Homo sapiens: one gene and its partners. The protein of the gene in region 4 interacts with the protein of the main gene of each other region in a biochemical or structural test. Each region holds a gene or a part of one and is shown on either strand. Other genes may lie near its edges.

Evidence for each region.
Region 1: the proteins of SMURF2 (region 4) and TOP2A form a complex in vitro, tested with the Homo sapiens proteins (one study listed by BioGRID).
Region 2: the proteins of SMURF2 (region 4) and MAVS form a complex in vitro, tested with the Homo sapiens proteins (one study listed by BioGRID).
Region 3: of the proteins of SMURF2 (region 4) and SMAD5, one has a biochemical effect on the other in vitro, tested with the Homo sapiens proteins (one study listed by BioGRID).

The regions. Positions count from the first base shown.
Region 1 is NC_000017.11:40,400,891-40,407,916, reverse strand, and holds part of TOP2A (DNA topoisomerase 2-alpha), read left to right. Parts: intron 1-242; coding exon 243-368; intron 369-974; coding exon 975-1,085; intron 1,086-1,227; coding exon 1,228-1,333; intron 1,334-1,423; coding exon 1,424-1,533; intron 1,534-3,033; coding exon 3,034-3,126; intron 3,127-3,425; coding exon 3,426-3,540; intron 3,541-3,643; coding exon 3,644-3,765; intron 3,766-4,862; coding exon 4,863-5,011; intron 5,012-6,835; coding exon 6,836-7,026. UniProt on the Homo sapiens protein: Key decatenating enzyme that alters DNA topology by binding to two double-stranded DNA molecules, generating a double-stranded break in one of the strands, passing the intact strand through the broken strand, and religating the broken strand.
Region 2 is NC_000020.11:3,849,819-3,856,844, reverse strand, and holds part of MAVS (mitochondrial antiviral-signaling protein), read right to left. Parts: intron 2,288-7,026; 5' UTR 2,221-2,287; coding exon 2,104-2,220; intron 1-2,103.
Region 3 is NC_000005.10:136,170,842-136,177,867, forward strand, and holds part of SMAD5 (mothers against decapentaplegic homolog 5), read left to right. Parts: intron 1-1,592; coding exon 1,593-1,814; intron 1,815-3,534; coding exon 3,535-3,791; intron 3,792-6,495; coding exon 6,496-6,639; 3' UTR 6,640-7,026. UniProt on the Homo sapiens protein: Transcriptional regulator that plays a role in various cellular processes including embryonic development, cell differentiation, angiogenesis and tissue homeostasis.
Region 4 is NC_000017.11:64,659,282-64,666,514, forward strand, and holds the start of SMURF2 (E3 ubiquitin-protein ligase SMURF2), read right to left. Parts: upstream 3,027-7,233; 5' UTR 2,600-3,026; coding exon 2,548-2,599; intron 1-2,547. UniProt on the Homo sapiens protein: E3 ubiquitin-protein ligase which accepts ubiquitin from an E2 ubiquitin-conjugating enzyme in the form of a thioester and then directly transfers the ubiquitin to targeted substrates.

The DNA of each region.
Region 1 (7,026 bases), about 24 Mb from region 4:
CTTTATGCTTATATTTAATTCCCTCATTAGGCATTTTAAAATATATTTTAGACAATTTGTGCTTATTTTGAGAAATTAGGTACATTGTAGCCTATTTTAACAGACCTTTCTGATGTAGTAAATTATAAGCTAATAGCTCAAAATACTGGAGCTCAAGAAAATCCAAGCAACATATACTGTTAAATTTCTTTGTTCTTTTCAAATTTATAAACGATGCTTTTTTTGGTATATGTCCATTTCAGATCATGGAAAATGCTGAGATTAACAATATCATCAAGATTGTGGGTCTTCAGTACAAGAAAAACTATGAAGATGAAGATTCATTGAAGACGCTTCGTTATGGGAAGATAATGATTATGACAGATCAGGTCAGATTTGTTATTAAATTTTTAGATTGTTCAACTAAATTAAGCATGTCTTAATTTAATTTCATTGTTTTTTGCCATGAAAATAAATTAGTTAAATAGGAGCTTTATTCATCATCTCTAATCAACATCTAATCAGATATGCTTATATCATATGTATGTTGCAAATACAGGTTAAGTGAGTCTGGATTTGAACAGACCTTTTTTGATTCCCATAGAAAATTTGACAAATTGCCAGTAGGTCAGTCATAATATTTTTTTATTTCTAAACAATTCTTTGTTTGTTTGAGATGGAGTTTCGCCCTTGTCGCCCAGGCTGGAGTGCAATGGTGCAATCTTGGCTCACTGCAACCTCCGCCTCATGGGTTCAAGCGATTCTCCTGCCTCAGCCTCCCGAGTAGCTGGGATTGCAGGCGGATGCCACCACACCCAACTAATTTTTGTATTTTTAGTGGAGACAGGGTTTCACCATGTTGGCCAGGCTGGTCTCGAACGCCTGACCTCAGGCGATCCGCCTGCCTCGGCCTCCCAAAGTTCTGGGATTACAGATGTTAGCTACCACGCCCAGCCTAACAGTTCTTTTGAACTTTGGCTTTCAAATCTTTCTAGGACCAAGATGGTTCCCACATCAAAGGCTTGCTGATTAATTTTATCCATCACAACTGGCCCTCTCTTCTGCGACATCGTTTTCTGGAGGAATTTATCACTCCCATTGTAAAGGTACGCTAATTTCTAAGTACCATCATGGATATTTTAAGACCCTACTCCTCAAACCTGGATATACATATAAGCCCCGTCACATGTAGTGGTATACAGGGGACCCCACAGTGTACAAAGCCACAGTCATTGTTTTTTATCACAGGTATCTAAAAACAAGCAAGAAATGGCATTTTACAGCCTTCCTGAATTTGAAGAGTGGAAGAGTTCTACTCCAAATCATAAAAAATGGAAAGTCAAATATTACAAAGGTTTGTAATGAAACCCATATAGAACTTCTCATTTTATTATACACCCTGTACAAGACTATATGAAGGAACTTGGTATTTTTGGTTTTATAGGTTTGGGCACCAGCACATCAAAGGAAGCTAAAGAATACTTTGCAGATATGAAAAGACATCGTATCCAGTTCAAATATTCTGGTCCTGAAGATGATGCTGCTATCAGCCTGGTAGGTTTGAGTTGTATTTTATATACATTCTAATTTTAGAAATCACTACTTTAGCCAGTTGAAACATTTACATTTTTGTATAAGACTCCGTATCAAAAAAAAAAGAATGTTTTATAGAATAGAATGTTTCCAGTAAGCATATCCCAGAGAAGGAATCAGATATTTTAGAAAATTTTGATTTTTGGCTGGGCTTGGTGGCTCATGCCTATAATTCTAGGACTTTGGGAGGCCAAGGCAGGTGGATCACCTGAGATCAAGAGTTGGAGACCAACCTGTCCAACATGGTGAAACCCCCTCTCTACTAAAAATACGAAAATTGGCCGAGCGTAGTGGCTCACGCCTGTAATCCCAGCACTTTGGGAGGCAGAGGCGAGCAGATCACAAGGTCAGGAGATCAAGACCATCCTGGCTAACAAGGTGAAACCCCATCTCTGCTAAAAATACAAAAAATTAGCCGGCCGTGGTGGCACGCAGCTATAGTCCCAGCTACTTGGGAAGCTGAGGCAGGAGAATCGCTTGAACCCGAGAGGCAGAGGTTGCAGTGAGCCGAGATCAGGCCACTGCTCTCCAGCCTGGGCAACAGAGTGAGACTCCATCTCAAAAAAAAAGGAAAAAGGCCAGGCGTGGTGGCTCACGCCTGTAATGCCAGTACTTTGGAAGGCTAAGTCGGGCAGATCACAACGTCATGAGATGGAGACCATCCTGGCTAACACGGTGAAACCCCGTCTCTACTAAAAATAAAAAAAAATAAAAAATAAAAAATTAGCCGGGCTTGGTGACACGCGCCTGTAATCCCAGCTACTCCGGAGGCTGAGGCAGGAGAATGGCGTGAACCCAGGAGGCGGAGCTTGCAGTGAGCTGAGATGGTGCCACTGCACTCCAGCCTGGGCGACAGAGCGAGACTCTGTCTCAAAAAAAAAAAAAAACAAAAAAGGTCGGGCGCAGTGGCTCACACCAGTAATCATAGCACTTTGGGAGGCCGAGGCGGGTGGATCACCTGAGCTCGGGAGTTCAAGACCAGCCTGACCAACATGGTGAAACCCCATCTCTACTAAAAATACAAAATATTAGCTGGGTGTGGTGGCACGTGCCTGTAATCCCAGCTACACGGGAGGCTGAGGCAGGAGAATCACTTGAACTTGGGAAGTGGAGGTTGTGGGAGCCGAAATCGTGCCATCACATTCCACAAGAGTGAAACTCCATTTCAAAAAAAAAAAAATACAAAAATTAGCTGGGCGTGGTGGCGGGCGCCTTTAATCCCAGGGGCTCAGGAGGCTGAGGCAGGAGAATCGCTTGAACCTAGGACGCAGAGGTTGCAGTGAGCCAAGATGACACCATTGCACTCCAGGCTGGGCAAGAGAACAGTAACTCCCGTCTCAAAAAAAAAAAAAAAGGAAAACAGTATTTTTGTTTTTCTGTTGTTCGTTCTTTGTAGAAGGATATTTTGGAACCTATTAGCCTATTAGTACCAGTGACATCTTTTCATCCTTTAATTTATAGGCCTTTAGCAAAAAACAGATAGATGATCGAAAGGAATGGTTAACTAATTTCATGGAGGATAGAAGACAACGAAAGTTACTTGGGCTTCCTGAGGTAAAAGTTTTAAATATATGCCACAAAATGGATTGTTAGACTGACCTTTTGGTATTGATACTATAGCAAATTAAACTTACTGAATAGTTATTTTAGTAAAAAATTTGATATGATAGAGTTGTGCAGCAGTTAAATTTGCTTTATCTTTAAAACATATAAAATATTTCTGTATTATTCAATATTTTTTAAAGACTTAAGAATTACAGAAATAATTCTTAGTTCTGAAAGGTTTCTGTTTGATTTTTGTGTTGAGCATTGTTTAGACCGGTAGACTCATGTAATACTATTTGGTCCTTCAGGATTACTTGTATGGACAAACTACCACATATCTGACATATAATGACTTCATCAACAAGGAACTTATCTTGTTCTCAAATTCTGATAACGAGAGATCTATCCCTTCTATGGTGGATGGTGAGTTCCAATTTGTTAGTCTGTTTTCATTGTAAGATGGAAATCAAATTCCAAAATTGGTTAAATTGAGGATACTTACGTTTGCTCTTATTTCATTTTAAAGGTTTGAAACCAGGTCAGAGAAAGGTTTTGTTTACTTGCTTCAAACGGAATGACAAGCGAGAAGTAAAGGTTGCCCAATTAGCTGGATCAGTGGCTGAAATGTCTTCTTATCATCATGGTGAGGTAAACACACAATCCATGTTTCCAGAAAGCATTATATCAGAAATCCCTGCAGAGTCATTCTCAAAACAGATTTGGTGAAAGTATAAGCTCATATATTCATAGTAAAGAACAAGTTGGTAAAACCTGTGAAAGAATAAAACTGCTTGCCCTTTGATTTCTGAAAGTAATATTCCTGCAGGGATATTCATAAGTCTGCAAAGGTCTACATTAAAAAATGCTTAGTATGTTTATTATAACTTTGTGATGTCAAAATTTAGACCTCCACTGATTTGAAAATTGTTATAATAAATTGTGACACATGTATGCATGGAATCAGTGCTGTAACTTCAGTAAAACTGTGTGCACTGACACTGAGGAATATCCAGGGTCTATTCTCAGGTGAGGAAAAAAAGAGACAGAACAATAACTAAAAATGTCTACAAGGATATGTTCCAAATTGTTCACTTTAGTTACCCCTGAGAACTGGAAAGGGCAACTTTCACTTTTTATATGTGTCTGAATTGTTTGACTTTACACCAATGTTTTGTGATTACTTTTTGCATTAATTATGTAAAACAGTTTTAAAGAACTAGATTGCCTACAGGTTTCTAGAATTTTAAATATAATGGTTGTCTTGTTGCTTTCAATCAAAATATAGTAGGGATACAATAAATTTTCACCCAACGAACATTTGTTGAATGCCTACCATGTACCAGGTATACAAAAATAAATAAAAATATGTTCCTTATCCCCAAGATATAATAACAATTTAGCCAGAGGGCCAATACACACACAGCTATAGAATAAAGTGATACATGCTAGAATAGAAATGAACACAGCATTGTAACACAAAGGAGGAAATATTTCATTTTGCTGAGGATAAGGAGAAGAACTATGCCTTCAAAGTTGAGTGGGATTTAATAGAAATTGTTGGACGGCAGCCCTAAACTTGGAGCCAGAAGTTGTAGGTTCAAGTACTATTTCTGCCATCTATTAATCTGAGGAAAGTCACTAAACAACTAGACCTCACAAAATGTTACAGGATTATAGTGAGGTTAAGTCATAATGTATTTGTATTAGTAAAAGCCTCAGCTTAATGAATCTTTTTTTCCCCACAGATGTCACTAATGATGACCATTATCAATTTGGCTCAGAATTTTGTGGGTAGCAATAATCTAAACCTCTTGCAGCCCATTGGTCAGTTTGGTACCAGGCTACATGGTGGCAAGGATTCTGCTAGTCCACGATACATCTTTACAATGCTCAGGTAGGTATGCTTTCACTTTCTAGTGACTTGCCATTTCCAGTTTTGAAACAATGTGAGATTTAGTTCACCAAAAATACAAAAACTCAGTTAATCAGAAGATACTGGCATCTAGTGGCAGAGGCCAGGGGTGAGGCTTATACAGGAAAGCCCCCCCATAACAATTATCCAGTGCAACATGTCAATTATGCTAAGGTTGAGAAATCCTGATGTAGAGCTTGGGACTGAGTAAAGGAGACTTTGATTCTTCCTAAATATCACAATTGAAATTTTACTCCTTTACAAGCCTATGGAAAGTATATTATGAATGGTCAATTTTCAGCTGTCATCCCAGTCACCCTTTCAGTGGCATTCAAACAGTTACTAATTGCTCCATCCTTCTTGAAACTCTTTATTTGGCCTCTATGACTGTAGACTCTTCTGGTTCTCTTCTACCTTATTAGCTTTCTCTGCTGGGTCCTTCTCACCTTCCCAACCTCTAAATACTGGCCCATTCCAGGGCTCCTTCATCAGATCTCTTTCCAATGCCTACACTCAATTCCCAAATGATCTCCCATTCATCCGTTCTATACCTTTAAATCTCCAGTCTTGGTCTCTCCCCTGAACTCCCAACTTTTATGTCTGACTGCCCTCTTAACATTTCCCACTTGGATATCTAGTTAAGTATCTCAAACATAAGTCTAAAACCAAATCCTTAGTTTTCCTGTCTCAGTAAATGGAATGCCATGCCATCCTTCTAATTGCTCAGGCTAAAAACCTTGTCACCCTTGACTCCTTTGCTTGATACTTAACATCCAGTTCCTCAGCCAATCCTATAGGATCTGCATTGGAAAAATACTAAGCCACCCCCATCTCATCTAAACTATTGTAACATATCATCTTTTCTTAAAGCAGCCAATTATTTTTTAAAAAATAAGTCACTCTGATTCAGAACCTTCAACTGCTCAGAGTAAAATCTAAAGACCTATTTTAGCTAACCAGACATTATGTGATCCGTGTCCCCACCTTCCATGTCTTTTGATTCCTTCTCATACCATCTCCTCTCCAGCCACACTGTCCTTGGCCTATACTCAAATATACCGAGCACATTTCCTCTTCAGGGCCTTTTACTTACTGGTTCCTTTGCCTGCAACACTCTTTCTCTAGATATCCACATGGTTCAGTCCCTCAGTTTGTTTTTTGTTGTTTTTTTTTCTTTTGAGATGGAGTTTTGCTCTTTTTGCCCAGGCTGGAGTGCAGTGGCGCAATTTCGGCTCATTGCAACCTCTGCCTCCTGGGTTCAAGTGATTCTCCTGCCTCAGCCTCCCGTGTTGCTGGGATTACAGGTACACGCCACCATGCTCAGCTAATTTTATATTTTTAGTAGAGATGAGGTTTCACCATGTTGGCCAGGTTGGTCTTGAACTCCTGACCTCAGGTGATCTGCCTCCCTCAGCCTCCCAAAGTGCTGGGATTACAGGCGCGAGTTACTGCACCTGGCGCCCTCAGTGTCTTTTCTCTGCTCAAATGTTTTCCTATCAGAAACGGCTTAACTTTCCTTAGCACCTCTTCAGTCACTTTCCCACTTTTTCTTCTCTTGTTTATCCCACCACCTAACAAAATATGTGTTAATTGCAAACTTCTACTGGACTGTGAGCTCCTTGAGGATTGAGACTTTATGTCCATGTGCGTGACACATAGCAAGTGCTCAATAAATATTGTTAAATGTATATTAGTCAGCAAGTAAAACCAAGATAATTTTCATGTATAATACATGTCCTTTCCATAAAAGTTAAGTGTGAAATTCAGTATTTTTGTAAAATAACATTCTTTGTTTCTTTTCTTTAGCTCTTTGGCTCGATTGTTATTTCCACCAAAAGATGATCACACGTTGAAGTTTTTATATGATGACAACCAGCGTGTTGAGCCTGAATGGTACATTCCTATTATTCCCATGGTGCTGATAAATGGTGCTGAAGGAATCGGTACTGGGTGGTCCTGCAAAATCCCCAACTTTGATGTGCGTGAAATTGTAAATA
Region 2 (7,026 bases), on a different chromosome or scaffold from region 4:
CCAGGCTGGTCTCGAACTCCTGACCTCAGGTGATCCACCCGCCTTGGCCTCCCAAAGCGCTGGGATTACAGGCGTGAGCCACCGTGCCCAGCCCTAGAGTTTTTATGTCTACCTGAATTCTCACATAAAAACAAGCAACCAGACAGCAGAAACAAAAACCCACAGAATCCTGCAGGAGCTAGATTTTTAGAAAAAGGAAAATAGCCAGGTGCGGTAGCTCACACCCGTAATCCCAGCACTTTGGAAGGCCGAGGATCACAAGGTCAGGAGTTCAAGACCAGCCTGACCAACATGGTGAAAGTCCGTCTCTACTAAAAACACAAAAATTAGCCGGGTGTGGTAGCATATACCTGTAATCCCAGCTACTCAGGAGGCTGAAGCAGGAGAATTGCTTGAACCCAGGAGGCAGAGGTTGACCCAAGATGGCACCACTGCAACTCCAGCCTGGAAGACACAGCGAGACTCCATCTCAAAAAAAAAAAAAAAAAAAATGCTGGGCGCAGTGGCTCACGCCTGTAATCCCAGCACTTTGGGAGGCCGAGGCGGGTGGATCATGAGGTCAGGAGATCGAGACAATCCTGGCTAACACAGTGAAACCCCGTCTCTATTAAAAATACAAAAAATTAGCCGGGCATGGTGGCAGGCGCCTGTAGTCCCATCTACTCAAGAGGCTGAGGCAGGAGAATGGCGTGAACCCAGGAGGCAGAGCTTGCAGTGAGCCGAGATCACACCACTGCACTCCAGCCTGGGCGACAGAGTGAGACTCCGTCTCAAAAAAAAAAAAAAATCGTGCCACTGCACTCCAGCCTGAGTGACAGAGCAAGACTCTGTCTCAAAAATAAAAATAAAGACCAGCCTGGCCAACATGGTGAAACTCCATCTCTACTACAAATACAAAATCAGCCAGGTGTGGTGGCATGCGCCTGTAACCCCAGCTACTCAGGAGGCTGAGGCGCGAGAATCACTTGAACCCAGGAGGCAGAGGTTGCAGTGAGCTGAGATCATGCCATTGCACTGCAGCCTGGGCAACACAGCGAGACTCCGTCTCAAAAAAAAATTTTTTAAAGAAAATAAAGAAAACCCACAGAAAATATTTACTATAAAACAAGATATCCCTATAAACCCCAAAATACAAGAGGGAGGAGCAAACTCCAAACAGACCTGCATACTAATGCGATCTGTGTGGGAGGACAGCGGAGACAACAATGGGGCTCCTGAGAAATCTGAGGACAGGAGGCCCCAAAAGAGCCAACAGGTACCCTCTGGAGCACAGGGGTCCAATCTGAGAACAGCAGCTACAACGGGGAGGGGTTGTGCCCGTTTCACCAGCTAGTGAGTGCCAGGGGCCTGCAGCAAGTTCTGTTGGGGCTAGAGCGACCCTGATCCTGCCAGCTCTCAAACCTGAGTCCCAGCTCCGTGCCAGGACAGGGCCCCATGACAAGGAGAATGGAATCAAAACTGAGCAGGACAAGGAAGGGCAAGAGAGATGAAGGAAATAGGAGGTTCCAAAAAAAGTGGGCAAGTGGACCAGAGCCAGGAAATCTCAGAGAGCCAGCGCCATATTTTTGAGCAGTGCACAAAAGCAACACAAGGGGGAGCTCGGCGAAGTCAGCAACGCCACCCTGAGCCACACTCCATCCAAAAGTTAGAAAAGCAGCAAGGGTGCGGTGGCTCACGCCTGTAATCCCAGCACTTTGGGAGGCCGAGGCAGGCGGATCACAAGGTCAAGAGATCAAGACCATCCTGGCCAACATGGTGAAACCCCGTCTCTATTAAAAACAAAAAAATTAGCTGGGCGTGGTGGCACGCACCTGTAATCCCAGCTACTCAGGAGGCTGAGGCAGGAGAATCACTTGAACCCAGGAGGCGGAGGTTGCAATGAGCCAAGATCGTGCCACTGCACTCCAGCCTGGCGACAGAACGAGACTCAATCTCAAAAAAAAAAAAAAAAAAGAAAAGCAGCAAGGACAAGGAGCAAGACACAGCAAGAGGAAGAAGGAAGGAGCCAGCCCAGGCTTGGGTGAGGAACTAGGATGGGGCTGAGCTTTGAATTCCACAGCCCTGCCCCCAGGCCAGTGTCGGGCTGTCACTTCCCTTGCTCACCTGGTCTCTTGCTGTGAGGCAGGGCAGGTAAGGCAGAATCTCTACAACATCCACATTGCAAAAATTGCTGAAATTGCGGCAGATATACTTATAGGTCTTGTCTTCAGCAAACGGCATTGCTGCTCAGATTCTGGAGAGAGGGCTCTGGCCCCATGAAGGGTGGATGGACTGAGAGGAAACGAGACTGGAAGAAAACAGATCACACATTACAACAGGGTTGGGGGGTTGGGAGTGGGGCTGGACAAAAGGCAATTCTTTCTCAACTTTTTGGAATGTTTGTTTTCTTTCATCTTTAATTTCTTCTTTTTTTTTTTTTTGAGAGCGAGTCTCACTTTGTCACCCAGGCTGGAGTGCAGTGGGGCAATCTCGGCTCACTGCAACCTCCGCCTCCTGGGTTCAATTGAGTCTCTTGCCTCAGCCTCCCTTCTGAGTAGCTGGGATTACAGGTGCGCACCACCATGCCCAGCTAATTTTTGTATTTTTAGTAGAGATGGGGTTTCACCATGTTGGCAAGCTGGTCACAGACTCCTGACCTCAAGTGGTCCACCCGCCTCGGCCTCCCAAGTTTGGGGATTACAGGTGTGAGCCACCACACCTGGCCGTTTTTGTTTTGTTTTATTTTGTTTTTAAGAGATGGGGTCTCGGGCTGGGCACAGTGGTTCACGCCTATAATCCCAGCACTTTGGGAGGCCAATTTGGGGGATTAACTGAGGTCGGGAGTTGGAGACCAGACTGACCAACATGGAGAAAATCCCGTCTCTACTAAAAATACAAAAAAAAAAAAAAAATAGCTGGGCATGGTGGCGCATGCCTGTAATCCCAGCTACTCGGGAGGTTGAGGCAGGAGAATTGCTTGAACCTGGGGGCAGAGGTTGCGGTGAGCCAAGATTGCACCATTGCACTCCAGCCTGGGCAACAAGAGCGAAACTCTGTCTCAAAAACAAACAAACAAACAGATGGGGTCTCTGTCACCCAAGTTGGGTGCAGTGGTGCAATAATAGTTCACTGCAGCCTCGAACTCGTGGGCTCAAGCAATCCTCCCGCCTCAGCATCCCCGGTAGCTGGAACTACAAACCTGCGCCACTATGCCCAGCTAATTTTTTTATTTTTTCTAGAGACAGGGTCTCATGATGCTGCCCAGGCTGGTCTCAAACGCCTGGCCTCAAGCGATCCCCCTGCCTCCGCCTGTCAAGTAGCTCGGATGACAAGCACCAGCCAATGTGTCCAGCCACCTTTAATTTCTTTTTTTTTTTTTTGAGACGGAGTCTTTCTCTGTCGCCCAGGCTGGAGTGCGGTGGCGCGATCTCGGCTCACTGCAAGCTCCGCCTCTCGGGTTCACGCCATTCTCCTGCCTCAGCCTCCTGAGTAGCTGGGACGACAGGCGCCCGCCACCACGCCCGGCTAATTTTTTTGTATTTTAGTAGAGACGGGGTTTCACGGGGTTAGCCAGGATGGTCTCGATTTACTGACCTCGTGATGCGCCCGCCTCGGCCTCCCAAAGTGCTGGGATTACAGGCGTGAGCCACCGCGCCCGGCCGCCATCTTTAATTTCTGTAAACATCCTATTTTATTACTGCCTGAGTCTCTCCAAAATTCCTGCAGAACCCGGGCGCGGTGGCTCACGCCTGTAACCCCAGCACGTTGGGAGGCCGAGGCGGATGGATCACGAGGTCAGGAGTTCAATACCAACTTGGCCAAGATGGTGAAACCCCGTCTCTACTGAAAATACAAAAAAATTAGCCAAGCATGGTGGCGGGCGCCTGCAGTCCCAGCTATTCAGGAAGCTGAGACAGAGAATTGCTTGAACCCAAGAGGCGGAGGTTGTAGTGAGCCGAGATCACGCCACTGCACTCCAGCCTGGGCGGCAGAGTGAGACTCCGTCTCAAAAAAAAAAAAAAAAAAAAAAATTCTGCAGAATTTGCTAAAAATGAATTGATGACCACCAGCTACTCAAGAAGCTAGGGCAGGAGGATCGCTTGAGCCCAGCTGTTCGAGGCCAGCCTGGGCAACACAGCGAGACCCTGTCTCTAAAAAAATAAAAATAAAAATAATTGAAGACCAAAAAGAATCAGATCCAGAATACCTAGGGCCCATTTCTTCTCTGCAGGTTGGTCAGCACTGGGAAGGTCTGCATGTACCCCTAGCACATGCGGTGGGGGGATCTGTATGTGACCCTAGTTTCTGTGCCTATAAATGTCCTGGCTCCCTTCCTGGCTCTAAGGCCCTCAAGCTGATAGCAAGAGGGCTATACCTAAACGTGCTGCTGCTTTGGGACACACTGAAAAAATAAAAAGTGAACCCCAACATGATAATAATCGGATCATCCCGCTTTAAAGAAGAAACTGAGGTATGCTTGCTAGTTAGTAGAAGAAGAAAGAACTGAGATCTTCAGGTCAGCTTCTTTCCATGACATGGCTGCAGGCCCACCATTAAAGCCTGCTACACATAGGCCGGGCACGGTGGCTCACGCCTGTAATCCCAGCACTTTGGGAGGCCGAGGCGGGTGGATCACGAGGTCAGGAGATCAAGACCATCCTGGCTAACACGGTGAAACCCCGTCTCTACTAAAAATACAAAAAATTAGCCCGGCGTACTGGCGGGTGCCTGTAGTCCCAGCTACTCGGGAGGCTGAGGCAGGAGAATGGCGTGAACCTGGGAGGCGGAGCTTGCAGTGAGCCAAGATTGCGCCACTGCACTCCAGCCTGGGCGACAGAGCCAGATTCCGTCTCGGGGGAAAAAAAAAAAAAAAAAGCCTGCTACACATACATTCTTTTTTTCTTTTTTGAGACAGAGTTCCAGACTCTTGTTGCCCAGGCTGGAGTACAATGGCACAATCTCGGCTCATCGCAACCTCTGCCTTCCGGGTTCAAGTGATTCTTCTGCCTCAGCCTCCTGAGTAGCTGGAATTACAGACATGCACCACCACACCTGGTTAATTTTGTATTTTTAGTAGAGACAGGGTTTCTCCATGTTGGTCAGGCTGGTCTTGAACTCCTGACCTCAGATGATCTGCCTGCCTTGGCCTCCCAAAGCGCTGGGATTACAGGCGTGAGCCACCATGCCCGGCCCACATACATTCTTAAGATAGGAGACTGAGTTCCATGCCTTGAACTCACTGTGTGTCCTGGGCAAGTTATCAGTTTCCAGACTTCCTCACCCTTAAAACGGCTCAGATAGCAGCTTGTTTTGACAGTACGGTAATTCAGCCTTATAAACTTTTTTTTTTTTTTTTTTTTTTGAGACAGAGTCTCCCTGTCGCCCAGGCTGGAGTGCAGTGGTGTGATCTCGGCTCACTGCAGCCTCCATCTCCCACATTCAAGCAATTCTCCTGCCTCAGCCTCCCGAGTAGCTGGGATTACACGTGCCCACCATCATGCCTGGCTAATTTGTTTGTTTGTTGTTGTTGTTGTTTTTGAGAAAGAGTCTCGCTCTGTTGCCCAGGCTGGAGTGCAGTGGCGTAATCTCGGTTCACTGCAACCTCTGCTTCTCGGGTTTAAGCAATTCTCCTACCTCAGCCTCCCGAGTAGCTGGGATTACGGGTACACGCCACCATGCCTGGATAATTTTTATATTTTTAGTAGAGACGGGGTTTTATATGTTTTAATGTTGGCCAGGCCGGTCCTGAACTCCTGACCCCAGGTGATCTGCCTGCCTTGGTCTCCCAAGTTGCTAGGATTACAGGCGCCAGCCAACGCGCCTGGCCAATTTTTGTATTTTTTAGTAGAGACAGGGTTTCACCATGTTGGCCAGGCTGGTCTCGAACTCTTGACCTCAAGTGATCCTCTTGCCTTGGCCTGCACAGTGCTGAGCCACTGTGGCCGGCCTCTAAGCTTAAATTTTTTTTTTTTTTTTTTTTGAGACGGAGTTTCGCTCTGTCACCAAAGCTGGAGTGCTGTGGTGCAATCTCGGCTCACTGCAAGCTCCACCTCCTGGGTTCACACCATTCTCCTGCCTCAGCCTCCCGAGTAGCTGGGACCACAGGCGCCCGCCACCACACCCGGCTAATTTTTTGTATTTTTAGTAGAGATAGGGTTTCACCGTGTTAGCCAGGATGGTCTCAATCTCCTGAACTCGTGATCCGCCTGCCTCGGCCTCCCAAAGTGCTGGGATTACAGGCGTGAGCCACTGCGCCTGGCCTTTTTTTTTTTTTTTGAAATGGAGTTCACTCTTTTTGCCCAGGCTGGAGTACAATGGCGCGATCTCGGCTCACTGCAACCTCTGCCTCCTGGGTTCAAGCGATTCTCCTGCCTCAGCCTCCCAAGTAGCTGGGATTACAGGCATGAGCCACCACGCCCCGCTAATTTTGTATTTTTAGTAGAGACAGGGTTTCACCATGTTCCGGTCTCGAACTCCCGACCTCAGGTGATCCGCTCACCTCGGCCTCCCAAAGTGCTGAGATTTACAGGCGTGAGCCACCGCGCCCAGCAGCTTAAAAAAATTTCTTTTTTTTTTTTTTTTTTTTTTTTTGAGACAGTCTCGCTCCTTCACCCAGGCTGGAGTGCAGTGGTGCAATCTCGGCTCACTGCAAGCTCCGCCTCCCGGGTTCACACCATTCTCCTGCCTCAGCCTCCCAAGTAGCTGGGACTACAGGCGCCTGCTACCACGCTCGGCTAATTTTTTGTATTTTTAGTAGAGACAGGTTTCACCGTGTTAGCCAGGATGGTCTCGATCTCCTGACCTCGTGATCTGCCCGCCTCGGCCTCCCAAAGTGCTGGGATTACAGGCATGAGCCACCGCGCCCAGCCAGCTTAAAAATTTTTAAGTGCCTCAAATATAAGCAATTGCTGCCAGTTGTTTATGTAGGAGTTACCACAATTTGCAGTTATAGATGTATTTGCTCGTTACTTTTCTGCCGCCCCCATCAGGGAGTGCTGCAGGGAATAAAAGAGACAAGGTCTATGCCACATCCAATTTATATTCTAA
Region 3 (7,026 bases), on a different chromosome or scaffold from region 4:
TAATTTTTTTATTTTAAATTTCATTTGTTTATTGTTGCTGTATAGGAGAGCAATCAACTTTTGCTTATTAACCTTGTATCCTGCAACCTTGCTATAATGCTTACTAGTTCCAGGAATTTTTTGGTCAGTTCTTTCTTATTTTTACATAGACAATCATGTAATTTGCAAACAAAGACAATTTCCTCCTTTCCTATCTGTGTACCTTTTATTTATTTATGGCATTAGCAAGGACTTCCAGTATGATGTTGAAAAGTGGGAGAGGAGGCATCTTTGCTTTGTTTTTGATCTTAGCAGAAAACCTTCTAGTTTCCTACCATTAAGTATGATGTTAGCTGTAGATGTTCCGTATCAAGCTGAGGAAGTTCCCCTCTATTCCTAATTTGCTGAGTCTCACTTAGTTTTTTAGTTTAACTTTTTTGTTTAAAATAATTTTACAGATACTGATTATAGTTAAATCCTTCAGGTCTCTGAAAAAGAATTTTTTGTCTCAAATTTAAACCTGAATTAGTTTATGTTAGAAAAACAATTAAAAATGTGTTGTTGCTGCTATGTTCTGAATTGTGTCGTCCCAAAATTCATGTTTTGAACCAAGGCCTGGGCACCTCCTCACTCCACCCAGAGGGTTGGGAGGGTAGAACATCAAACCAAAGAGGTTTATTCTCCAGCCTTAAGGCCTAATGCAATTTGCTTTGCTAGGTTTTCAGCTTCCTTGACCCATCATCACTCCCTTATTTTTTGTTTTTCCATTTTGGAATGGGAACGTCTATCCTGTGTCTGTCCCACCATAAGCACGTAACTTACCTGGTTTCATAGGTTTACAGCTGGAAAGGAATTTTGCCTCAAGTCTCGTATGTCATATGTAGATGATATTTGGATGATACTGGGTTTACAACATTAGAGTTGATGTGGAAATGAGTTAAGACTTCAGGGGCTGTTGGGATAGAATATATGTGTGTATTTTACATGTAAGAATGATGTGAATTTTGGGTTGCTGGGGTGGAATGCTAATGGACCATATTGAATCTCCCTAAAATTCATATGTTGAAGTCCTAACTACCAGTGTGATGGTATTTGAAGATGGAAATAATTAGGCTTGAGAGTGGGATTGTCATAATGAGATTAGTTCCCTTATAAGAAGAGGAAAAGAAACAGATCTTTCTCTAAGAGCATGCACTGAGGAGGGGCCATATGAGCACACAGTGAGAAAGCAGCTGTCTGCAAGCCAGGAAGCAGGTCCTCACTAGTTACCAAATCTTCTGGCACCTTGATCTTGGACTTCCCAGCCCCCAGACCTGTGAGAAATAAATTTCTGTTGTTTAAGCCACTCAGCCTTACGGTATTTTATAGCCTGAGCAAGCTACGACTATTGCCGATCCTGGTATTTCTATAACTTTTTAAATTGTCATATTCAAGCTGATTTCTAGTGCTTGTTTTCGGATATAGATTCACAGCTAGGAAGGACAGTGAGACTTGTGAAATATCTGAAAATTTTCTTTTTCATGTAATACTTGGGTTGGGTTAAAAGATAAACACATGGACAATCTGAGTTTCTGATATGTATTAAACTCTTTCTGTGTCTGGTTTGTTCACAGATGTTCAGCCTGTTGCCTATGAAGAGCCTAAACATTGGTGTTCAATAGTCTACTATGAATTAAACAATCGTGTTGGAGAAGCTTTTCATGCATCTTCTACTAGTGTGTTAGTAGATGGATTCACAGATCCTTCAAATAACAAAAGTAGATTCTGCTTGGGTTTGTTGTCAAATGTTAATCGTAATTCGACAATTGAAAACACTAGGCGACATATTGGAAAAGGTAATCTTGTCATTTTCCTACATTTAATCGAATTCAATCATTTGTTGTACTTGCCATGAACCATGCATTGTGAAAGGTGCTAGAAACATACAAAGAAGTTTGACACGTGGCCTCTGCCTTAAGTTGCCGATATTGAAGAATGTATTAATCAAATAAAGACATGATGTTCCCTCATTTTTTTGTCCTGCTTAGTGTTTCTTCCCAGTGCTAAGGATCTGAAATCATACTACCACTTTGTTTTTTGAGTGTTACCCTGACTGGAACATAAGCTGTACAGGAACTTGCTTTGTTCACAGCAGTATCCCCAGTAGCTAGAAGAGTGCCTCATTGTAAATACACAACACATATTTATGGAATATTGTGTATGAATGCTGGTGAAGGATTAGAATTTTATAATTAAGGTATTTGTGGAGTATTTTGGGTTGAGATGACTTGTAAGTGTTACCATGATGTGAGAGGAGCGGAATTAGAAATGGGAAATCTAGTGTGAATGATACTCCAGTGGCTTCACCACCACTGCTCCCATCTTTTAAATTTAGGCAATAAGGTTTTATTAATAATTCATCCTGCAGATAGTTGCCATAACAAACCGGGCCCTTTTCATACTGCAATAAAATGTCAAAGTCTCATGCATCAAGTGATCAGGAAGGAAACCCATCCCAGGTAAAGTGTATTGCCTGTTTCTTGAGAAGTTTTGTTTTTACCCCTTGCTGCATTTTGCTTCTTTAACTTGAGGGCATCTTGGTCCAAAATAGGAATAAAAGGTAAATAAATATAATTGTGATAGGATTTCTTATAGAAGTGATTCAAAAAAATCCTGCGGCCAAAAATAAGTTACGAAACAAAGTTTTCATTGTCTTGAGTTTACTGCCAACTTGCCTTAGTTTTTTCAGTGAAGTGCCTCACTTCTAGGCATTGATTTTTTTTTTCTTCCATCACAGTAGAAGTAATTTAAGGGAAATCTATTTTGTGAATTTTGAAATTCTAGAATCAGTTTTTTCTTTTTCCCCAGCATATAGTTCTAGGACCTTTTCTTTCATGGGTTAGTTTTGGGGTGGTGGAGGGATATGTTGGGAAAATACTAGGTGACTAGCTTTAGTTATATAATTTGAATATTTAATGTTAAAACTATTTCCACATATTTATATATTTTTAAAATTTTTATTTTTTTTGCCCTCACATCTTGCAAAGGAACATATATATTTTTAAATATAAAAAAATTTTAAGTAAGATAAATCTGCCATTTCAAAGCTCTTCTTATGACCTGAAATTATATATGTAACTTTGGTTTTTTTTTAGTGTTGCTGTCCTCTTTGTTAGCACAAAGAGTGCAAAAGTCTGTCAAATGACTGTTTATGATAGTTGATAGCACTGAGGATTTATTTGAAAGGACTCATCAAAAGATGATTTGGGGTTTTTTTTTTTTAGCCCTCTCTTTCTCTCATAGAGATGATAAATGATTGTTGGGAAAGGAAAAAGAGAACAACCTAAAAATGGATAACTTAATCTGCTGCCTATTTGAGGCTTCTCTTGTAGATGCAGGCAGACATTAACCTCTTGATTATCTTTGGCAGCAGAAGGCCATCTAGTGGTAACTTCTGTCTAAAGACTGCTGGAAGTTTGCTGTGGATTAATGGGTACTTTTGTTGCACCATACAGTCTATTTGGTTTCATTGTAATGATTCTTTTAGCTGACTCTTGTGATGTTTGTCTTTTTAAGGTGTTCATCTGTACTATGTTGGTGGAGAGGTGTATGCGGAATGCCTCAGTGACAGCAGCATATTTGTACAGAGTAGGAACTGCAACTTTCATCATGGCTTTCATCCCACCACTGTCTGTAAGATTCCCAGCAGCTGCAGCCTCAAAATTTTTAACAATCAGGAGTTTGCTCAGCTTCTGGCTCAATCTGTCAACCATGGGTTTGAGGCAGTATATGAGCTCACCAAAATGTGTACCATTCGGATGAGTTTTGTCAAGGTGAGTTGTGACCTCTAACATAATTTGAGTCACTATAAATGTGTATATTATGACTTTAGGTTATAATTTTTAAAAATTGTTAAATGAAAGTTGATAATTGCTTTTGGCCTGATTTAACAGGTTTTTAAATAAAATTATTGAATTTGTAATTTTAACTACATAATAGATCTAAGATTTCATTTTGTAATCTAGACATTATAAAATGCATGATTGATATTGATTTTGATATTGAATAGGGGCTGAGATTATAAGGAATTTTAGTTAAAAGACTAAATTTCTAGAAAGCATTTGTATTAGTCCATTTTCATGCTGCTAATAGACATACTCAAGACTGGGTAATTTATGAAGAAAAAGAGGTTTAATGAACTCACAGTTCCACGTGGCTGGGGAAGCCTCACAATCATGGCGGAAGGTGAAGGAGGAGCAAAGTCATATCTTACATGGCGGCAGGCAAGAGAGAATGAGAGCCAAATGAAAGGGGAAACCCCTTATAAAACTATCGGATCTTATGAGACTTTATTCACTACTGTGAGAACAGTATGGGGGAAACTGCCCCCATGATTCAGTTATCTCCCACTGGGTCCTTTCCACAACATGTGGGAATTATGGGAGCTACAATTTAAGATGAGATTTGGGTGAGGACACAGCCAAATCATATCAGCATTTAATATTAAAATTGCTATTTGAGTCTCTTAACTTCAACAGTTTTGATTATTATTACTAGATTTCATTAGGGTGACTTGGCAGAATTCTTTAGAATACTAAAATTATTTCATTCCTAGCTAAGTACTGTTATTAAAAGTAATGGCAGAAGCCACAATTACTTTTCCACCAACCTTAATATTAAGGATTTGCAAAGTTCAAAGGAACTTTTCAAGTTTTTCATCTACTCTCTTCACCTGACTGTATTGACATTCCAAAGATTTGTGCTTAAAATCTGAAAAGAATTTTAGTCATGTATTTAAGCAATCTGTACTGTATCTACATATTTAAGCAATCTGTACTGTATCTACATGGTTCTTAAGAATTTAGCACAAGAAGAGCACCTGTCACACGCTGTGCATGGGTTTTTTTCTTTTTGGTATTCAGCCCCAGTCCAGTGTTTTCATGATACTTTGCTGTAGATCTATTGTATACATCAGTTTACTGGTTACCCTGAAGGTATTTCTGCCTTCTTGTACAGTAATGTGACTTTTGCATATTTATTTTAATCTCCACTCCCCAATGTTCTTCACTCCCCTGACCGCCCTCCCTCCCCAACCCAGTTTTCCTGGGCCAAGACTACCATAAGCAGTAAACCAGAGAACCTGATAAATCCAGGAAAATAAAAGTGAAAAATTTCTATTTCAATTTTTATCTGCAGTTTTAGGCTAAAGATTTCAGCTCAGTTCATCCCAGTAATTTCCAACCTTAAAGGATAATCACTATGTGACTGCCACATTAAATTATACATGCATGTATTGATCAATATCTACAATGCCTTATCTGATATTCAAACAACTTGAAAATAAAAAATTTTTCGTTAAAAAAAAAAACCTGGGCCGGGTGAGGTGGCTCACACCTGTAATCCCAGCACTTTGGGAGGCCAAGGCAGGTGGATCACCTGAGATCAGGAGTTCGAGACCAGCCTAGCCAACATGGTGAAACCCTGTCTCTACTAAAAAATACAAAAATTAGCCGGGCATGGTGGTGGGTGCCTGTAATCCCAGCTACTAGGGAGGCTGAGACAGGAGAATTGTTTGAACCTGGGAGGCGGAGGTTGCAGTTAGCCAAGATTGCGCCATTGCATTCCAGCCTGGGCAACAAGAGAGAAACTCTGTCTCACAAAAAAAAAAAAAAAAAAAAAAAAAAGAAACTCTGACATGTGACATGATCTTACATGAGGCTATTTATGATTTTGATTTTGATTTTTTATATATGATTCCTTTATTAGTATTTAAGTGACATCTCTTTACATTTTTTAGTGGTTTCTCCAGGAATTACCACGTTATCTTTAACATACCCCAATCTACCTAGAGTTAATATTGTACTATTTTTAGAATGTAAAATATGAAAACCTTGCTGTTGAAGAGTTTTAATTACCTTCTTTTATTCTTTGTGCTATTCATAAATTTTACATCTGCACATTATATCTTATAATACAGTTAAAATTTTTCCTTTAAATAGTCATTAAGTCTTACAAAGAAATTAAGAGAAAATGGTATTTATAAATATTTGCAGGCAGATTCTTTGGGGCTATGTAAATACACTGTTTCTCCTTTATATTTTACCCACAATTTTTGCATTCTTCAATATATCTTGTCTACAGTAATTATTACTGTGGTGTTCTAGTGGTGATTTTCTATTTTGCATTTATCCCATTAAGGGAGAATGTATCTCAGATCAGAAATATTTGTTTTAATTATGAGATACTGTACTGTGTTACCTTTCTAAGATTAAAAAAAATTATGAACTATAACTGGCTCTAAGGGTTTCTTTTAAGGGAATTATATATTATTTTAGAATTCATGAATCTTTAAATAATGTAGCTGTTGTCTTTTAATTTCATGGTGAATACTAAGACTGGTTTTGTGATAGTTATTCTCTTTATGTAACTTCTACATATCTCTACTGTTAAAAGCTATCTTTTTCTTATGGTAAAATTGGTTTAGAGTGGTTGACAGTTTAAAGAGGGATTTGTGATGATATCTGTTCATTTTCATAGGGTTGGGGAGCAGAATATCACCGGCAGGATGTAACCAGCACCCCATGTTGGATTGAGATTCATCTTCATGGGCCTCTTCAGTGGCTGGATAAAGTCCTTACTCAGATGGGCTCCCCTCTGAACCCCATATCTTCTGTTTCATAATGCAGAAGTATTCTTTTCAATTATATTGTTAGTGGACTTGTTTTAATTTTAGAGAAACTTTGAGTACAGATACTGTGAGCTTACATTGAAAACAGATATTACAGCTTATTTTTTTCTACATAATTGTGACCAATACATTTGTATTTTGTGATGAATCTACATTTGTTTGTATTCATGTTCATGTGATTAACTCTTAGAAGTGTTGTAAAAGATGCAGAGTAAGTATTATGCCCCAGTTCAGAAATTTGGCATTGATCTTAAACTGGAACATGCTTTTACTTTATTGCCCTAACAATTTTTTATTAAATTTATTTGAAAATGCATCACATGATGAAAAATTATAGTAGCTTATAAGAGGGCATATACAGTGAAGAGTAAGTTTTCCCT
Region 4 (7,233 bases):
AGGTACTCTATAAATTTAAAATACTAATATGGTATTAACTTAAAGCAAAGAACAATAATTTTAAAACACCTTATAGCCCAAGTGTATTGTAAACCAAATATAAATTCACTGTGGGATCTGTCTTTTTTTAAGTGATTTTTTTTCCTCTATTAGGCAACCCAGATCTAAATGAACTGTTAAACACTTAGTCTAAAGGTATGCCAAACATTTCTTAAGGTCTTCACAAAGAATCAACTTTTTTTTTTTTTTTTTTTTTAAACAAAATGAGGCCTAGGTTAAATATTTTATTTGGCTTCTCAAGATGGACTGAGAAGTTGGGCACCAGCTCCAGACCAATTCCTGGACGCACATCAAACACAGCCCTGTCATTTATCCAGTCAGTCAAAACAATCTTTTCCATCTAACCCTTTAATGTTTATGTCCTAAAAAGCTGCTAATTGAATCCAGCTCTTGAGATCTATTTGCTAAAATCTATACCATCTAATTTATAAATGATGAACAAAAATGGAAGAAAAAATATGTTAACTTTCCTGGCAAAACAGAAGAGACTCCACTGTAACCAAAGAAGGAAGGACAATGTTTTTAATATTTGTCAAATTTTAAGAGAAAACTATTCAGAGACAAATAGTTGTAAGAAACTCAGAGTACCTCAAACTGTTTTTACTATTAAGAGGACACAGGGTATTTAAAATTCCTCAGAAAAACCTGAAACAAAATCACTATAAATGTAGTTCAATATTCCCCCTTCCCCTAAAATATAAGCATAATCTTTCCTCTTAATAAACTTTAATTATAAATTCTTATAATGTATCATAGGCAGTACGGAAACCACAGATAAACACTTTAAGATCTATTAAGTCATACTAAAAACCTCAACTAACCTTATCTGCAGAAAATCAAAAACCCAATTTTTTCCCTCATTTTCTCTACATAGCCCAGAGGAGGGTAAATGGAAACAGCCTATTTCTGATGCTTTCTGCACACCTGGGATCACATGTTCTTTCCACGATCACTGACTACAGACAGCAACAGCAACAGATAAACTCTAAAGCAACAAAGATCCCCTATAAAGGTTTCCACTGACTCCTCCCAATGTAAGGACACTGAATGAGGGGGGAGGGGGTGGAATACAAGTATCCTCCAATCCAGGTTTTCCATTAAGAATCACTCAGTTAATGATTCCCTGCAATTTTCCCTAGGGAAAGGAAAACTGCCATGAAAGTAATATATTATTTAAATTGCAGCCAACATACATTCAAGCTAAATTCTCAAATACCAAATTCACTGCAAGTTTTCATCCAGCAAGTTCAGCCAGTGGACTGGGATGTGACACACAGGCATTTAACTACAAAATTAGTCCAAATAAATCTCAAAGTCTAGTGTGGGCAAACATAATTACAGTTTATCCGTACACGTGCACGCACACACAAATCCTCTACGGAAAATTATCTTTCTCACCACTCACCCGAATACAAACGTGGACAATTTATCAGGGGTAAATGGTGAAGGTAGGATAACGCCGTGATTCCAATTCCTTTACAAACCAAATAAAAGTTCTCCTAAAACGGGGGTGGCATGTCCATGTAAGAATACCAAAAATGGCACTGTAAGCAAAACGTACCTGTAATGTTAAAGATTTCATGCACCTGGAATCATAAACACTTTGTAAGTGTAGTCTTCTATCTGGCAACCCCTCCGGACATTCTTTTCCATTTCGAAAAAGGAATGGGGAGGGTGGGGAGAGTAACAGAAAGTTTGCTCGAAAGTTTGTATGAGCACATACTTAGCAATGCACCCCCCCCAAAAAAGTGTGTTTTTAAAGCAGGTCTGGCGTTAGAAGTTAGACACAAGTTCTGCGGCCTAAAAGGAACAACCCCAAACATGCCACCCTACAATCAGACACTTCCAAAACACAGTGTACAATGAGCCCAAGCCGTCGGATCAGACAGGCACACCGGAAAAGTCAACCTGTCTCCTCACCTCAGAGACATGAGTTTAAGGTGTGTGGCCCGGGCAGCGGTGGCCGGCGGCGGGGAGTAAAGGTTTTTCATGCGGGCATAACTGGGTGTGTGCAAGGTAACAACCCGGGAACACACACGCACACCCTCCCGTTAAGCGCTCCATCTTTAAGGAGTGTTTACTGCGCGCAGTCAGCAACCGGATTCAATAATCCTCGCCACGGGAGCTCTTCATCCCCTTCACGATCTCACCTGGGCGGTAGCCCAGGGGCTGTTCCCCGAGCCCCGGGAGGCAGCGTCTGGCTCCTTGACCAAGACTTTCCGACCTGAAATCCGCCTGCGATGCGAACCGGTGTATTCTCCCCTCCACAAAACACCACCCCCCGCCCCGAGTCATCCTCGGCTTTTTAAACAATGTCCAAACCAGAGCAAGTGGTTTTCCAATTACTCTCCCTGAACTAGGCCTTCCCATTCCTCCGACCCCCAACTCATCATTGATCGCGACCCTGGCCCTTCCCAAGGCCACAGGCACCCCCCGCCAGCTCGCCCACCCCGCGGCTGCCCAGCCCGGCCCGCCGCCCCCCCTCACCTGTCAGGCGCAGCTTGACGGGCCCGTTCCTCCGGCCTCCGGGGTTAGACATGTCCCCGGCGGCGGGGGCGGCGGGGGCGGCGGGCGGCACGGGGGCGACGGCGAGGCGCGGCGGAGTCACCACAGCGGCCGGGGCTGGGGCCCGAGCAGCCGGCGCCTCGGCCGCCACGGCCGGAGGGTCCCGGATGTGCCGAGAGTCGTCGCCATGAGCCGCGGAGGGAGCGGGACGCCGAGCTCCCCCCTCCTCCCACTTCTCCTTCCTCGGCCCGGGCCGCACAACAAAGCGGCAGCCGCGGCCGCCCGCGCCGCCTCCGCCCGCGCCCCCGCCGCCTCCTCGCGGCCGCCGAGGCCTTTCCCTCCTCTCGTCTCGGCGAGGCCCAGTAGCCGACGGGGCTGGTCGGCTGAAGCGGGCGGTGCTCGGGGGCGCCGGAGCAGAACTCTGGGCTCGGCCGCTTCCTCCTCCACCCGCCCTCTTGTCTGAGGGACCCGGGACCTGGGGCCGCCGCCGCCACTCGTCGGCTCCGGGGGGCGGGGAGGAGACGGGAGGCGGGGCCGGCGGGGCGGGGCGGGGCCGGGGCGGGGCCGGCGGGCGCGCGCAGGGTGCCCTGGCGGGCACCGGCAGTCAGGGAGGGTGTGAGCTGCCGCCGAGGGTCCCACGCGGAACGCTGGGAGGGAGCAGGCAGGGAGCAAAGCGGCGGCGGGCGCGGCAGCTCTGTGGCACCTGGAGGGGTTTACTGTCCGGGCCACTTAAGGGAGAACTTTTGTCCAAGCAGGGCCAACTGCATTTTATTAGACGCCCACTGCGTGCAGGGCGCTCCGAGAGGCTGGGGCGAGGAAGGTTAGAACCGAGTCCGCTGCCTGCCGGGAACTTGGCGTCTTTCGGGCGAGGGAAGAGAAAGCATTCCCACGCCGATGGTTCCAGCAAAACCCCAGGAATGCTCTGCTCCTGGTCTTGTAGTTGACACCTCCATCCGGGACTCACCTGGTGGAGGAGATCAGGTTACCTGCCGACTCCCGCTCTTTTCAGGTGCAGCCAAGGATGGGGAGATGATACGTCTTAAAGGATTAACAAGATAAACCTTGGAGAGTAATGTATGAAGAGTTGTTCATACGCTACTGTATTTCGTTATCTCAGGAGGAGAAAGAGAAAAGTTTTTAAAAAATGTGTACCTTATCCTTTGACATTGTAACTGTACTGCTAGAAATTTATTTTTTATTTTTTTGTTTTTAGACAGGGTCTCCCTCTGTCGCCCAGGCTGGAGTGCAGTGGTGCGAACACGGCTCACTGCAGTCTCAACTTCCGGGGCTCAGGTGATCCTCCCACCTGAGCCTCTGGAGTAGCTGAGACCACAGTGTGCACCACTACGCCCCACTAATTTTTGTATTTTTAGTAGAGACATGTTTAGTAGAGACGTTTAGGTTTTCCCATGTTGCCCAGGCTGGTCACGAACTCCTGACCTCAAGCGATCAGCCCGCCTCGGCCTCCCAAAGTGCTGGGATTACAGACCTGAGCCACCGCACCGGCCCTATTCTTGACAAATAATCGTACAGAAGATGTTCTTTGCTATATTCCATTAATAACAAAAGGGGAATGAGGGAATAGCATAATAGTCCAGGAACCGCATGGTTTTTTATGCAGCCATGTAACTATTTTTATGAAGATCATATAATATGGAAGAATGTATATGTAATGCAAAGTTTAAAAACAGAATAGAAGTTGTATGCATATACATGCGAAAGTATCTAGCACAATGTAAACTACTAAGGACAATAGCGTGGGGGATTTTTTATGTGATTCGTTAGTTTTGCTTTAGGCTATTATAACATTAATGCAATTTTAAATGTTTTGGATTAATATATTTTAATCCTTATTCCATGCCAGTCATTTCTTTTAATACATCAGTGAACTCACTTCTCCAGATAGTTACCTGCGAGAACATTTCATCAGTTTGGATACAGCCCTACAATTAAAAGTAATCCAAAAAAGTATATGAAGTTCTAGACATCACACTAAAAATACCACAGATAGGCCGGGCACAGTGGCTCACGCCTGTAATTCCAACACTTTGGGAGGCCGAGGTGGGCGGATCATTTGAGGTCAGGAGTTTGAGACCAGCCTGGCCAACATGGTGAAACCCCGTCTGTACTAAAAAAAAATACAAAAAAATTAGCCGGGCCTGGTGGCGCATGCCTGTGGTCCCAGCAATTAGGGAGGCTGAGGCAAGAGAATCGCTTGAACACGGGAGGTTGCAGTGAGCCGAGATCACGCCACTGCACTTCAGCCTGGGTGACAGAGCGAGACTCCATATCAAAAATAAATACATAAATAAATAAAAATTAAAATACCAGAGATAGTGCCAGCAATTCATTCAACAAATATTAAGTGGCCATTTTGTGCAAAGCAATGAACAAGGTCCTTTAGAAATGCTTCCTTGTACTACAAATATATAGAAATCAATGTGAACAATAGCTGCTACCACAATTTAAGAGGGCAGACAGTGGCAAAAAACTTAGCAAACTAATGTACACATACACATTTGCCTTATTTTTACAGCACGCTTTGTTCCCAACCACCCAACTAACATAATTTGTAGCCTTGTATTAGGTAATAGAAGTTAGGATTTCAGAACGTCATGGGAGACCTGGGGGAGACTGCTTGTTTTGAAGTTGAAAGCAGTAAATTAAAAAATGTAAGTGACAGCATAGAAAAATGTATATAGGGTTAACGTGCAGAGGTTTGTATTTAGGCTTTCTTGTAAGGTTAAATCCTGTTGTTTAAAACAAATATTCAGATAAGAATAACACTAAAACCATTCAAGGGCTGGGCATGGTGACTCATGCCTGTAATCCTAGCACTTTGGGAGGCCGAGGCAGAGGAGTCACTTGAGCCCAGGAGTTTGAAACCAGCCTGGGCAACATGGCAAAACCCCGTATCTACAAAACATTAGCCAGGAGTGGTGGCCTGCACCTATAGGCCCAGCTACTCAGGAGGCTGAGATAGGATCACCTGAGCCTGTGGAGGTCAAGGTTGCAGTGAGCCGTGATCACACCACTGCATTCCAGTGCCACTGCATTCCATCCTGGGCAGCATACTGAGACTATCACAAAAATAAAAAGAAAATCAATGTACTGGTAATGATTTTTTTAAGCAGGTACATGGATGTTCATTTTATTGTTTTCCTTGCCATCTTAAATATTGACATTGACTGTAAACATTTATTTAAAAGTAACTAAATGTTTAAAATGAAGTAAAATAAATGAAAACATAGAACAGGGGCAGAGCGTGGTGGCTAACACCTGTAATCCCCACACTTCGGGAGACCAAGGTGGGAGGATCACTGGAGCCCAGGAGGTTGAGGCTGCAGTGAGCCATGATTATGCCATTGCACTCCAGCCTGGGCAACAGAGTAAGACCCTACCTCAAAAAACAAATGCACTCAAAAACAGAATACTCATAATAGGAAAGTCATTTTGAAGGCCTCTCTTAAGTGAGTGGCCTCATCTAGTCCAGGCTCAGATTTCAGAGACGATTGGGTTAGAAAGTTTAAAAAAACAAAAAAGTTTATGTGTTTCTCTTCCCTTGGGGATATGTTTATGTCCCCAAAGGGGGATATATATACATTATAATGACAACATGTAGGGAATTACCAAATTAATAGCCGGAACTTGGGAAAGATAAGACGGAAAATTAAGGGATGGGAATCTTAGGTAAAATCAATTATATACATTCAGGTGTAAAAGTCTTTGAGGAAAGGAAAATAGCATTGGACATGAAAACAGAACCATTCTTTTTTTTTTTTTAGACGGAGTCTCACTCTGTTGCCCAGGCTGGAGTGCAGTGGTGCAATCTCGGCTCACTGCAACCTCCACCTCCTGGGTTCAAGTGATTCTCCTGCCGCAGCCTCCTGAGTAGCTGGGATTACAGGCACCCACCACCACACCTGGCTAATTTTTGTATTTTTTTTTTTTTTTTTAGTAGAGACGGGGGTTTCCCCATGCTGGTCAGGCTGGTCTCGAACTCCTGACCTTGTGATCCACCCTCCTCGGCCTCCCAAAGTGCTGGGATTACAGGCGTGAGCCACTGTGCCCAGCAGGACCATTCTTTACATATCAAAATATTACTATGAGATTCATTCAGCCACCATTTTTATTTTATTTTATTTTATTTTATTTTATTTTATTTTTTGAGTTGGAGTCTCACTCTGTCACCCAGGCTGGAGTGCAGTGGTGCGACCTTGGCTCATTGCAACCTCTGCCTTCCAAGTTCACGTGATTCTCCTGCCTCAGCCTCCGGAGTAGCTGGGATTATAGGCACCTGCCACCACCCCCAGCTAATGTTTGTATTTTTAGTAGAGGTGGGGTTTCACCATGTTGGCCAGGCTGGTCTCAAACTCTTGACCTCAGGTGATCCGCCTGCCTAGGTGTCCCAAAGTGCTAGGATAACAGGCGTGAGCCACCGCGCCCGGCCCTATTCTTGAAAAATAAGTAATAGTACAGAAGATGTTCTTTGCTAAATTCCATTAATAACAAAAAAGAAATGAGGGAACAGCATAATGATCCGTAAACTGCATGGTCTTTTGGGGTTTTGTTGTTGTTGTTGTTGTTGTTGTTTGTTTTTTGAGACGGAGTCTCCCTCTGTCGCCAGGCTGGAGTGCAGTGGCGCCATCTCGGCTCACTGCAACCTCC